Homo sapiens: one gene and its partner. The protein of the gene in region 2 purifies or fractionates together with the protein of the main gene of each other region. This does not show direct contact. Each region holds a gene or a part of one and is shown on either strand. Other genes may lie near its edges.

The links. Proteins that work in one complex are often made in the same cells at the same time.
Region 1: the proteins of COLEC10 (region 2) and INHBE purify together in Homo sapiens (affinity purification with mass spectrometry; 3 studies listed by BioGRID and IntAct, with this or other methods). This does not show direct contact.

The regions. Positions count from the first base shown.
Region 1 is NC_000012.12:57,453,957-57,458,106, reverse strand, and holds INHBE (inhibin beta E chain preproprotein), read right to left. Parts: upstream 2,801-4,150; 5' UTR 2,571-2,800; coding exon 2,273-2,570; intron 2,014-2,272; coding exon 1,259-2,013; 3' UTR 82-1,258; downstream 1-81. UniProt on the Homo sapiens protein: Inhibins and activins inhibit and activate, respectively, the secretion of follitropin by the pituitary gland.
Region 2 is NC_000008.11:119,098,247-119,101,746, reverse strand, and holds part of COLEC10 (collectin-10 isoform 1 precursor), read right to left. Parts: intron 1-3,500. UniProt on the Homo sapiens protein: Lectin that binds to various sugars: galactose > mannose = fucose > N-acetylglucosamine > N-acetylgalactosamine. Acts as a chemoattractant, probably involved in the regulation of cell migration.

The DNA of each region.
Region 1 (4,150 bases), on a different chromosome or scaffold from region 2:
TGAGCTTTTGTTCATATGATTTACATCTATCAATTCACCACATTAGAAATTAAAACTGAAAAAGACTGTAACACAAGACCATACAAGCACACATTCCATTAACAATGATGTCAGAAAGATGATGTAATCACATGTCACACGGCCTCTGGAAAACTCCACAATACAATTTTAAGATAATGAGAATTCAAAAGGCAAATAACATGTTAGTATTATTATGAAAATAGCTTTGACTTTGTGGACACCCCTGAAAAGGGACCTCCCAGAAGCCTACAGAGTACACTTGAAGAACTGTTGCTCTGGACCATCACCCTAACCCTTCTTTATGACTCACATTTGTTGATTTTCTTTCTCCTTTTTATTAAGAAAGTATAAGCCAGGCGCGGTGGCTCACGCCTATAATCTCATCACTTCGGGAGGCCAAGTCGGGTGGATCAAGAGGTCAAGAGATTGAGACCATCCTGGCCAACATGTTGAAACCTCGTTTCTACTAAGAATACAAAAATTAGTGGGCGCCTGTAATCCCAGCTGCTCGGGAGGCTGAGGCAGAAGAATCACTTGAACCCAGGAGACGGAGGTTGCAGTGAGCCAAGATCGTGTCACTGCACTCCAGCCTGGTGACAGAGCGAGACTCGATCTCAAAAAAATAAAAAAGAAGAAAGAAAGTATAAATGCTTGTCTCCCAGTGGGTCCTGTCCCCTGGGAAAAACCAGGGAACTTCTTAGGCTTAGTGCCTCATTTTCCTGACTCCTGTTTCTGGGGGTCCCCTAAGCATCCTCCCTCAGCGCCTTGCCCATCTCCCTCTTGACCTTCCCTTAAGGTACCTCAACAGCCCTTACCCTGGGCCAGCCTGCTTACCCTGCTTCAAGCCTGCTGGACCATCTATCTGCTTCCTCCTCCCCTCACTTGAGGACTTTCTCATCTTGGGAGAGGCTAAGTAATTTTTCTCTGCCTTCCCTCCCTCCCTCCCTAGTCCCTGACATCTTCTCACAGGACTTAGGGCAGGAAATCATGCTTTCTGGGTAGACCCCTTTAGAAGAAACGCTTTACCCATCTCCCAACACATCAGCCAACCTGGAATAAGCCAGAGTCTCAGACAAGAAAGTGCCCATTTGGGTCCCATAGGGGTCAAGTGAGTCATATTGCCAGGTGGTTGTTGGGTTGGGGTGTGGATCAGGAATCTGATGCCTCCAGTCACAGATGCCCTGTGCCTGGGAAACTTCATCTTGGTCTCTTCACTCCAAAGCCCCAGGTCCTCTTGCTAGCTGCAGCCACAGGCCTCCACCACCATATCTGGCACATCCGTCTTGACCACATTGCCATTATGATCCAGGTAGAGGAGAGAGAGGGGCCTTCGGGCAGTAGGGACACAACAGGAGGTACTGGCAGGCCAAGGATTGTTGGCTTTGAGGAGGCTGAAGACGGCAGAATGGAAAGAGGCAGCAATGCCTGGGCTGCCAGCCAGGTGGGGAGGGCACTGCCCACTGCAGTAATTCAGCTGGTACCCCTCGGGCTGCAGTATCCAGTCCCGCCATCCCAGTTCCTGGAAGTCTACGTAATGGTCTCGCCTGCAACATAAGGGGGTCGCAGGCTCACAGGTGGGGGTCCTCCTCCTGGCCCGGCCTGCTCCAGGCTCATTGGCTCGGATCTTAAGCTCTAGGAAGGGCTGCTGGTGTCCTGCTGTGTCCAAGAGCCGCCTCGGTTGTCCAGTAACTGTGCTGTTGCCTTCTAGGGGTCTGCAGTCTAGTTGCAGTTTCAGGACACCAGACTTCTCACCCCTCAAGCCACTAGAGGGCAGAGTTAAGGTATGCCAGCCCAGGTTGGTGATGTGGTGCTCAGCCAGGAGAGTGCGGGACCCTTGGCGCCTCCTCCTTGGTCCCCATCGGAAGATCCTCAAGCAAAGAGTGCCAGGAAGGGTGGGGAGCACGTGCAGCCACAGGCGGGCATGGTACAGGTGGTGGGACCGAGGAGTGGACAGGTGAAAAGTGAGCAGGGAGCTGTAGGCTGAAGTGGAGTCTGCCCGAAAGACAGAAAAGGGAAAGAAAATGTGAGTAGAGATGAAGCTCTCCTCTGAGACTCCCCAAGCCCTGCCCACTGCTCTCCCTCGAACCTACCTCTAGAAAAGTAGAGACTGCTTTGTGTCCTCTGCAACCAGTCCCTGCCCCAGCTCCTCCTTCTCCTGCCACACCCCACTCCCTCTGCTGCTCCTGCCAGGCTCCCCTTCTGCCTCCCTTTCCCTGTCTGCTCTTTGCCTGTTGCTCTCTCCCTCACCCACCTGTGACAGTAGCAAAGCTGATGACCTCCTCCCCATTCCCTGGAGCCACACTCCCTGGCTGTAGTCTCCGGAGGGCTCTGGTCAGCGCTGCCTGGGGTGGAGGATGAGTTATTCTGGGACGACTGGTCAGGTGCAACCCATCCAGGATTTGCTGCTTGGCTAGCTCCAGCACCAGAGCTCGTTCTGCTTGGGGTGCCAGTTTGGAGCCCCCACAGGAGGGACACACAGACCCTGTCCCCTGTGCTCGCACCAGTGCCCACAGCAGCACCAGCCAGAGCTGGACATCAGGGAGCCGCATGCTCCTGGTGAATGGCCCTGGTTCAGGAGCCTCGGATGGCAGTTGCTCCGTCTGTTGAGTCTGATTGCTGGGGGCCAATGAGGGCACAGTGACAGCAGACACCACTGCCACACCTACCCTTGGCCAAGGGTACAGCCACCTGTCTTCTATTGTCTGGGACTCAGGAAGGCTGAAAGTAGATCATCTGATGGATAGCTGTGCTTGACCCTCACAGCTCATGTCTGGCTACTGACCTGGGGCCTCTTTAGAGCCAGCTGCCTGGGTCTTCCAAACCTAGTGGTCAGCCAGCCGACCTACCCTCTGAGTCCCAGGATTGGCCAGCTGTGCTGCCCATCAGGCCCCTGCAGGGGGTGGAGGTCCTCCTCCCCATCAGCTCAGGTTTCACCATCTGGCCATGGTGACTGGGCCTGAAGTAGGGGTATGGGGGTGGGGGGGTGCAATGTGGACACGCATGATGCAAGAAAGAGGATGATTTCACATGCTCAGTCCCCAAGGTCTGGGACTTGGGGGAGGGAACGCCTTATGAGCCAGGTGGGGAAGGGCAATTTTCCCTCATACCTCTAGTCTTTCTAGCTTCACCACTGCTGCAGCAGTTTCCATGAGGCAGCTGTGAGTTCCAGTGGGTATTCCTCTGGGGCCCTTAGGCCAGAAGGAAAATTCTGGTCTCTTTATTTCTAGCACTGGGGCTAGGACAGGGATGAGGGTTTGGGCGGGTAGGAGAATGGAGCCCTCTTGCTCAGGCCCAGGTGGCAGTGCCACGAGGCACAGAAGTCACCCCCTGACCCTGCCTGTGCTGGCCGCCCAGAGTCCAGTTGGCCTGGAGCATGATGTGGAGCATGATGTGGAGGAGGGCCAGAGCCGGCGGGGGTTGGGGCGGGGAACGTGTTCCTGTGATGTCTGGGGAAGCCCAGAGAGGTGGTGGTGGTGGTGATGCAATCTTACACAGGGCAGAGTCCATCAGGACTGTCAGGGGGCATGACACTTGGGAGGGCCTATACCCAGCTGCCACTTCTCTTTCAAGGGACTGTGAGAGTTGCCTAAATTTGGGGCATCCTAGAAGTAGTGCCAGGCCTCCTTTTTTTCTTACATTTTTAAAATTTAAATTTTATTTTATTTTACTGAGGTAAGGTCTCAATCTGTTGTTCAGGCTGGAGTGTAGTGGCACAATCATAGCTCACTGCAGCCTTGAATTCCTGGGCTCAGACAATCCTTCTGCCTCAGCCTCCTTAGTAGTTGGGACTACAGGTGCGCACCACCACACCTGGCTAATTTTTAAATTTCCCACAGAGACAGGGTCTCGCTATGTTGCCCAGGCTGGTCTTGAACTCCTGGGCTCAAGCAATCCACTTGCCTCAGCCTCCTAAAGTGCTGAGGTTACAGGCGTGAGCCACCGCACCACCCTTCAGGCCTGTTAATGGGGGTAGAAAATGGGAGCTCTAAGAGCTTTTGACAACAAAGCAAGGCAAATACAGCAGTCTTGGTTCCCAGTCTCAGCCCTCCTGACCACATTTTCTCACTGTCTTTATTTTATTTTATTTTATTTTATTTTTTGAGGCTGAGTCTCGCTCTGTCGCCCAGGC
Region 2 (3,500 bases):
TGCTTACTCTATGAAAACCAAAAGGCTGGGTGCTTTGAAAGGATATACAGAAACATAAGATTCAACCTATGACTTGAAGGAGTTTACAATTTTTAGAAGTGAAGTGATGTATGCAAATACTAATAATACAAAGTCATGTCAAATATATTATACTGAAATAGCAACCTTGGTACTTTCCCTCTCTGTACTTCTTTATATGTAACCATTTTCTCACTCACAGGTATCCACAAAATAATTCTCAGAGAAGCAGGATTTTTAAAGCAGAGAGAAAGAATAAAACACGTTAATTTTTTTTCAACTTCAAAATAAGCTCTTGAAGCCCACATCAGACACAATAATTGAAAGCAAAAGCTTTTGATTTTCAGGAAGAAATGTTTGGCTGAGGTTCTTGAGAATCAAAAGGGAAGACCCTGACAGATTAAAATAGAGTTTATGCTTCAATAGTGATCTGGAAAAAAAGAAAAAGAACTCACGAGGGATGAATGCAGGATGAAGGTCACCTAGGCTAGGTATATGGAGCTTACCCTCACAGGAATGTGGTGTGGTCAGAGAATTAGTTATACGGCCCAAGGGGACAATGCAAAAGGGAATGGAGTTGGTATTAAGGTTCTGCCAAGCCTCACCGTTCACCAGCAACAGAGAAAAAGTGGAAGCCACTCTAAAACCTGTAGGGCGCCCCATGTTGCATGCGCTGAGGACACCCATTGGCTTTTCTCATCATTGTCTGATGTGTTTCTTTAAAAGTTCCTTACATAGTTACTTTTGATCATTCAGAAGAAGGCATGCCTGCTGGGGCCCCAAGGATTTGTTGAGCCTTTCTAAACTGAGCCATGTGGACACATTTCTTTAGAGTTGATGCCAGTCATTCACGTGCTCCCCAAACAGAAGGTGGGGGTCCTTGAAGTCCAGAATACAGTTTACATGTGCAGGAGGAAGGCTTGGAACTTGTACTTGGATGAAATGAGACAACGGTGAAATCTATACCAATGGAACGTGATACATGTTGTGAGAGAGACATTGAACAGAGAGATAACATAGTCTGAGAGGAAGGCAGAAGAGATAGTGCTTCAAGTGGAAGGGTAAAGGAAAGTTTAGCATTTGAGCTTCGCTATGAAAAGCTTCAGCAACTGAATGAAAGTGGGCACAAGGTCAGGTTCAAGGTACAGCAGAGGATATAGTTGGGATAAAGGCATGAGCATATGTCGAGCACCCTGCTCAGTAATATCAATCTGCTCACACCTTAGTTATATCCTGCAAATTCCTTATTTCTCTTACCTGTAAGTTGGAAAAAATAAGAATAGATTTTGAGATATTCATGGAAGAAAGGGAATATACATTTTACTAAGTACCAGTCAATCACCAAGTACTATTCGGGATACCTTACACATATTATCACATTAAATCTCATGAACTAAGTGTTATAATTATCTTTATCCTACAACTTGAAGAAATTGAGGATCAGAGAGGCAAAATAACTTGCTCGAGGACATCTAGCCATTAAATGGCAGTGCTGATATTCCAGCCCAACCATTTCTAACCCCCCTTTCATGGTGCTTCCCAGTGAGTTAACCAATGGTTTAATGAAAAAAAGCAAGGTGTTTGAAAAATGTTATCAAAATTTGCAAAGAATAGCAGTCCTCATCACCATCAAAAACATTATGCACTTAAAAGATTGTATGATTATGGGTTTAATGTTTTGATTTTTTAAAACATTATATTTTCTTTGCATGTGAATCCCTTTTAATTCAACACAGATGGAACGTTGATTCCAGTTATGCTATGATCCTAGTTCTGGGCTAAGCTTTAAAATGGACATAAAAGAAGCATAAATCAAGTGCCTTGGGAAAATGACGGGCTTTTAAGGAAAGCAAAACACACATAAGAGAACAAAGAGATGAGATACTATCATGTACTAACAGAGGGAAGCAAATGAAAAGCCTGGTAGAAATTCAGAAAAAGAAAAGATGGTGTGGATCAGAGTGGAGAAGGCTTCACTGAAGCAGTAGCCCTTAGCTAGAACTTAATAATATAGAAAACAGTTTCTTGAATTGCTATGTGGTCTTTTTTTCTGAGAAGACATAAACTCTGTGACTAGTTTTCAGTATTTTGACATGAATTCTTTTCATTTCATGACAAATGGGAACACCAAAGCAGTGTGGTGCAATGAAAGATGATGAAAGCTCCCCAAAACCAGGGTTTGAATCCTGGCTTTGCCACTTACTGGCTACACATGGACAGGTTACTTAATTTCTCTAAGCCTCCTTTTCTTTATCTTAAAAGTAGAAATAATTAGTACCTAAAATTATGAGATCATTAAGGAGAATAAATTAGGTATAGTAATATTTTCTTATAATCGGATCAGCACTGGGCTTGACTCACATAGAATGCTCAACCAATGTTAACTTCTGTTTCCTGAATCTGAGTTATGGTAAAGGAATGCATGCCAAGTACTTAGCCAGCTTATGGAAGATTTGAGCTTACAATGTCTATTTCCCCAAAACAAATTATGATTTAAAGTCATCCACAAAAACTGATTTTGGCCAATGAGTGGGAACATGTCTGTAATAACTGTCTAAAAGTTGAATTAGAGGTCACATTCAAACAAACAAACAAAAAAATCATAATGCTTTCAGCGTAAATGGATTATTGACCTTAAATAAAAACATTTATTTTGCTATGAGATGGAATTTACCTATACTAAATCACTATTATTTCTTATTCCTAAAATGAAATATTGACATCCAGGAAGCTACCCTATCCATGCAAGTGACAACATTAAGGCCAGCCTAGAAAGTTGAGATTAATCTGAGTCAGTAAAATATTCAGAAAGACAATCACCAAAATGAGGACAATAAATTTCAAAGTACAGATTAAAAATGAAATTAATCCGAGTGAGACGGAACATTGCATCTCCATTTAAAAAGATTCCAGGACATGCTCATAAATTTGATGGCATATCTCTGGAGAGGAAGAAAATCTTAATAGCTAATGGTGGAAATTGATATTAAGGAAAAGTGGTACTTATAGGAATATGGAGTAGTAAAGAGAAACAAGTTGTAAGAAATAATATGTTTTATTATGCAGTTTTTCATGTTTAATGCAACAAACATCTAGCAAGTGTCTATAATATATAATAGGCATTAAGATAAAATGGTTAAATACTAGGGTCCCAACAGAGCTTATTTTATTTAAACAAACAAATCCAGTGAACCTTTCATTCATTTGTTCTCCCAAGAAGTTCAGGTCTATGAGGGGAAACAGATAAGCTAATCAGATATGACAGTGAGTACAGTGATACAGGTATGTATTAGGTGCTATGTACCTGAGCCTTAAAGGAGGAATTAGCATGAAGGAAATAAGGTTAGTTAATCCTATCATTTCAAGACTGGTACTTTTTCAACATCTCTGGAAGTTCATCCACTTTGGGGCTCAGCTAATCGTACTAAAAACTCTTGAGCCTTTCTTGTCTTCGTCATCTACTATGCTCCCACCTTACATAG